2 separate regions of the Homo sapiens genome follow, and region 2 is linked to region 1. The links come from fine-mapping of genetic effects on gene expression. A gene starts in region 1. The other region holds a variant in brackets. All regions are shown on one strand. Distances are between the middles of the regions.

Region 1 (2,912 bases):
CTCTGGTCTCTGTTTATCTTTTCCTTTTTTTCCCCCCCGTTCTAACTAACGTCAGCGTGAGCTCATGCCTCTATTCGGGGATAATGATCCTTTCATGAACTGTTGCGGAATGACTTTTTGCAACAGCATTGTTAAGAGGTAATTGTTTCCTCTCTCCACATCCACTGTTTATTAGATTTGATTTGCTACTTGGATTCCACAAAATGGCTGAAATCCCTTGTCACCAACATAGGTTTAAGCTCAAAAGTCTGAAAATAGTTGGATAAAGGGAATAGCCACTTTGGATGTTTGCAGGCAGAACTGAAGAACTGTATTACATGTGGTACCTAAATTGCCAAAATACTGAATTATTCAATCATAAAACTAGATGGGTATCTAAAGCTCTCTACCCAGTAGGGGAAAAAACCGAAAAACCGTTTGGGAATCCTTCAGAGAGAACCGTAATGCTATTTACTGGATAAATATACTTCATTTTCTTCTCCCAGTTCTTTCCACAACACGCTTGTTAAGTCGCCATGGAAAGCACCATGCTTTATCAATTTGGCAAATAACACATTTCATTTTGCCAAGGCAGAAACAGCCTAAAAGTAATATTTATACCGAGAAACCCTGGCTGCAGTCCCCAGCTGCTCTCCCGCAGCCCTGCGCCTCCGGCTCATGCAGCGCTCTCCCCCCGGAGCCGGCAGGTGCCCAGGTGAGCGGGGCCTGCGGAGGCAGCGAGGGGCGCCGGCCGGGAACCGGCAGAACGCGTGCAGCCAGAAGACAGGAGAGATAATACATTCCCTTAAGTAATAAAAGTTTCCAGGACAAGGGGGGCTGGTAATTTTCAAAGAGCCTCCCGGCACGATGTCCTCGGGATCTGGGGGGCGCTCTCGGGCGGTCTCTGGTGAAAGTCGACTTAGTACAAACTGGACTCGAAGGGGCATGTCTCGGCACTCAGGGGCCCAGGCGCCGCGGGAGGTGGGTGGGCCTCCCGGGGCTGCACGGGTCCCACCTCCCTCTGCCCCGTAGGACTACTTTGCCGCTCTCCCAAACCGGGCTCCGGCGGAGGCGTCCGTTCAAGGGCGAGAGCGCGGCCCTGAGCGGCGGAGGGATCCCGGGTGAGGCGGCTTCCCGAAGTCAGAGGGGAGGGGGCCATAAAGTCGGCGGGGGACGGGAAGCGCGAGCTCGCGCCGGACGCGGCCAGGGCCGGGAAACCAGAACCGGAACCGGAACCCGCGCGCGCGCCCGCGGTTGCGCGGCCCCCACGGCCGCCGGCCTCCTCCGCTGTCTGCGCGCGCGCCCGCGAGGGCCTCCAGAACCCGGCGAGCCGGCCCTGCGCCGGGAGACGCCGCCGCCTCCGCCTCCCGGACCAGGGCTTCCAGGCCGGGCCGGACGGGCATCTCCCGCCCCTCGCGGGGAGCGTCGGGGAGGAGCCGCCGCCTCTGGCGATTGCGGAAGAGTCCGGGCCTCAAAGGGATGGGGAGCAGTCCGCGGCGCTGAGAGACCCGGGTCCCTGTCACCTCGGGCCGCGGGACCTCTCCGCCGGCGCCAGCGGCTCGTCCCAGCACCGGGAGCCTGGTGAGGGCGGCGAGCACAGAAGGAGCCCCGGGCCCGGGACATGGAATCGCGCGAGCCCGGCGCGGGACGGCCGGAGACGCGGCCAACGCTGCGGCCACGAGCAGCCGGCAGCCCCAGATAGAGAGCCGGGAGGGAGGGCCCCGGCCCTTGCCGCGGCGGGGAGTTCGAGGCCCCGAGACTCCGGAGGAGGAGCCGACACCCGTCCGTGAGCTGATCCCGCCCCAGCCCCGGCGGGAGTCCCGGGTCCCCTTCCCACTGCGCGCGGATTTCCCTCTCTGAGGAAGTTTATCCTTGTGCCTTCTGGAGGATTTCTCTCTAGCTCGACTCACTCTGGACTGACTCGCTCCCTGGCTTTCTCAGTTCGTTTTGGGAGATAACTTGTTTTGCTCCAAGCCGCATCCGTTGACCCCTTACAGTCGGATGGTCTAGATGACTGAATGGAGTTTTGAGTTGGACTTTTGTGTCCCTGACGGAGTTGGGCCTGATCCCAGAGCACTGGGGGTGGGGAGGAGGTGTTACTGTAAAATGCAAGTTGGATAAAAGGAGGACCTCTCGCCAAGGGCCCCAATGAGTGGCACACAGTCTACTATCACCGACAGGTTGGTATGAATTCCTCCTTCGTTCGGCCTCCCGGAATCGGGCCCGACCTAGCAGGGGAGTCGGTGATTGCAGATTGCCTTTGGCCAGCGAAGTTGACAGGCAGAGGAAAGAGGGTTGTTTCGGAGCTGTGCAGTTAGCCTGGGGTTGCTGCCGAGTTATCCAGTTGATTGGCTTTTGGAAATGTAATTTTTCCGGAGAGAAACTTCCCTTCCGATTCTCAGAGAAGGGGGAGGCAAAACCATGATTGTGGTTTTCCGCCTGTAGTGTGCATTAGGATTGTGTACTCGTCTGGAAATCAGAGGAGAAGGTCATTTTAGGTGAAGGTCGGTGCCTGAAGTCGGCTCGGTATTGGTGTATTATTTATCAGCTTTAGCCGTGTCCTGCAGTAGATTCTCAAGACAATTACATTTTAGGAATTTCTACCTGTGAACTTAATGTTGAGCCTACTGCATGGTGATCTGGGAACTTGATCTCTTTCAGATGTTGACCTGCACGGTGTTTAATTATTATCTAATAACTTTCCAGAATGTTGACATTACCAGTAAATCACAGGTTCTTGCTGGAAGCAATGTCCAGGAGCTGAAGAAATGAGGGTAAATCATGGGGTTTGCTTTTAATTCTTGTATTTAAATATTTCGTCTTCCAGAAACACTTGGCGTTTAAGAGATATAAGCCGTAAGCATAGTGTAAGCGCGCAGCTGAATTTGTTGAGTTCTGTGTCTGTCCTTTATAGCACCTACCAGTGTTGCATG
Region 2 (2,912 bases), 110 kb after region 1:
ACACTTTGATTAATTTGCTAATTATACTTTTATGCTACAGCTCACATTTATTTCATATATACACCATCATACAGAAATGAGCTTTTATTACTTTTTTGCACTTGAGCTAGAAATGCTTTTAAGAAAGTTGATTTGAGCTACTGCCTGTCAAAGAGAAAGTTTTAAAATCCATTTTACTTTTCTTCAAATGAATATAAAGAGATCTTACAATTTTTAGCGGTGACTTATTTTCAAATTTAAAACTTCAGATCTTATAGGATGTGTTTAAATTCTGAAATTGTATGACTTAAATAGGTATACAATACAAAATAAGCAGGAAGAGGTTAAGATATTTTCTCTTAATGCAAAATAATAAAGTATTCCCCTCCATTAGTTTGGGGGTGGGGGAAAACAACAGACTGGTAATTATTATGCAAATATTATGGGGAAAATCCTAGCTAGGAATAAGTAAATTCTAAGATAGTCACCTTATTTGGTTCAGTAGCAAGAACTGTAGATGGTTGCTGGAGATTTAAAACTCCAAAAACTCAACATTGACATTCAATATTTTCTCACTGGGAGTGTGACATTGTGAGGGCTCTTAAACTTTACATAGGAAAACGATTAGGAATATTATTGGTCTTCAGAATGAGCATCTCAAATATAGGAAAGAAAAATCATGGCTATATGTGAGTACATTTTTCATATGATAATATACACATAATTTAGGTTTTACCTATATTGATCTAAATGACATATAACTGATTATATTGACCAATGATTCTAGGAAGCCAAAGCCAAAGCCAGTATATTCATTAAGTGTGTCACAGAAGCATTCAGTCATCTAGCTAAACGACTGTAGACTTTTCCTTTATAGCATGATCCTCGGGAAAAGGGCTCATTTTCAAGTTTAAACGATAGAATGTTCTGGAGTTGTGAAATGTGAATGAATAAATGAGCTTGTACTTGATTGTGCTTGTAGAGTGGGTATCCAAGTTGTATCCCCTTACTTTACAGAAGTACTTATGTACATCTTCAAATATCTTTAGCGTTGTTACACCTTTTGTTTGCATTTCATTTTAGCACCTGAAAGTTTCTGTTCCTGATGAAATGTCTGCAGATCTAGGTAAGCTTGGAGCACTAACATCCTGGAGAATTACATCTTAATAGATATGTAGCTCAGCTCATCTGTTCAGGTTTTATCTGTCACATGGTGACTAGTCGATCACCTGAATCACAACAGAAAGACAGTCTATAATACATTTAAAGAGTAAATGAGGCCGGGCGTAGTGGCTCACGCCTGTAATCCCAGCACTTTGGAAGGCCAAGGTGGGTGGATTACCTGAGGTCAAGAGTTCGAGACCAGCCTTGCCAACATGGTGGAACCCTGTTTCTACTGAAAATACA[A/G]AAATGAGCTGGCATGATGGTGCATGCCTGTAATCCCAGCTACTTAGGAGGCTGAGGCAGGAGAATTGCTTGAACACAGGAGGCGGAGGTTGCAGTGAGCTGAGATTATGCCATTAACACTCCAGCCTGGGTGATAAGAGCAAAACTCTGTCTCAAAAAAAATAATAATATGGCTGGGCGCAGTGGCTCACGCCTGTAGTACTCCCAGCACTTTGGGAGGCCGAGGCGGGTGGATCACGAGGTCAGGAGATCGACCATCCTGGCTAACACAGTGAAACCTTGTCTCTACTAAAAAACAAAAAAGTAGCTGGGCGTGGTGGCGGGCGCCTGTTGTCTCAGCTACTCAGGAGGCTGAGGCAGGAGAATGGCATGAACCCCGGAGGTGGAGCTTGCAGTGAGCTGAGATCGCGCCACTGCACTCCAGCCTGGGCAACAGAGCAAGACTCCATCTCAAATAATAATAATAATAATAATAATAATAATAATAATAATAGAGTAAATGAAATCAGAATTCTGGGATGAAATATACGAACTGCCCTGAAGAACTTCCCTCTGGCATATTCTAAGTTAATTTGTACGAAGTAGCATTGCTATGTTGCCAATTGTATGTTGCCCAGAACATACCTTTAGATAACATAATTCCTTTCATTTATGAAGAAAAGAGAAGACCTGAGCTCATTCCTGAGGATCTGCATCGCCACTATATCCAAACTATGCAAGAAAGAGTCCATCCAGAAGTTCAAAGGCACTTAGAAGATTTTCGGTAAGCTTAGTGGTAGATAGAATTTCATATGATTATTCTAAATTAATTTTTTTAGTTAAGAAAAAGTTGCTCATTAAATACTTAGCTTAGCACTAGATAAACCATATGGTCTTATTGTTATTAAAACATAATGAACATCTGGAGCCAAAGGGTTAGAGTGGAACTGAGAGTCCAGACTCTCCATTCCAGGCACTTGCAGGATCTGAGCTCAGTGCTGTGTCTATGCTAAGTGTGTTCCTTTAAGATATTGTATGTGTTCTTGGAGTCATTGCTTCTAGAATTTTTTCCTCTGGTATCCTAGATGACATGGACCCATAAGTGGAAAAGTGACATTTTTCCTGTTCCTAGAAACCATAGCTGTGAAGACTGTGATGAAGCGTCCCCAGAATGAGGTAGTTTTTCTTTAGGCTACCTCAGGAAACTTCTCTATTCCCTTCAGGCAGAAACGTAGTATGGGACTGACCTTGGCTGAAAGCGAGCTGACTAAACTTGATGCAGAGCGAGACAAGGACCGATTGACTTTGGAGAAGGAGCGGACATGTGCAGAACAGATTGTTGCCAAAATTGAAGAAGTATTGTAAGTAATAGAAGTATATGTGGAAATGCCCTCTCTGCTGAGATACTAGTTATGCTTGAAGTGTCCTTTGGGTAGGTTTAGAAAAACTGTCAGATTGTGTATGTGGAGCCGTTTATTTTGTCATAGTACTTGAGAAACTGGATTTTTTTTTTCTTTTTTCTGATACTTTTAGATAAATTTCTTGTG

The links. PIP is the estimated chance that this variant, and not a neighbour inherited with it, causes the effect.
Region 2: its variant is the best candidate, but not a certain one, in a credible set for the expression of ARHGEF12 in whole blood (TOPMed, PIP 0.56).

Annotation. Positions count from the first base shown.
Region 1 is chr11:120,335,117-120,338,028 of GRCh38, forward strand. It overlaps ARHGEF12 (Rho guanine nucleotide exchange factor 12), which reads left to right and starts at 1,297. Exons shown (of 41, transcript NM_015313.3): 1 at 1,297-2,159. The coding sequence starts at 2,128. RefSeq lists a silencer at 884-1,753.
Region 2 is chr11:120,444,360-120,447,271 of GRCh38, forward strand. ARHGEF12 (Rho guanine nucleotide exchange factor 12) reads left to right here. Exons shown (of 41, transcript NM_015313.3): 16 at 1,063-1,105; 17 at 2,044-2,149; 18 at 2,589-2,726. Among named protein-coding and RNA genes, the nearest start is that of GRIK4, 66 kb to the right of the region's middle. The variant A/G (reference allele first, on the strand shown) is at 1,387.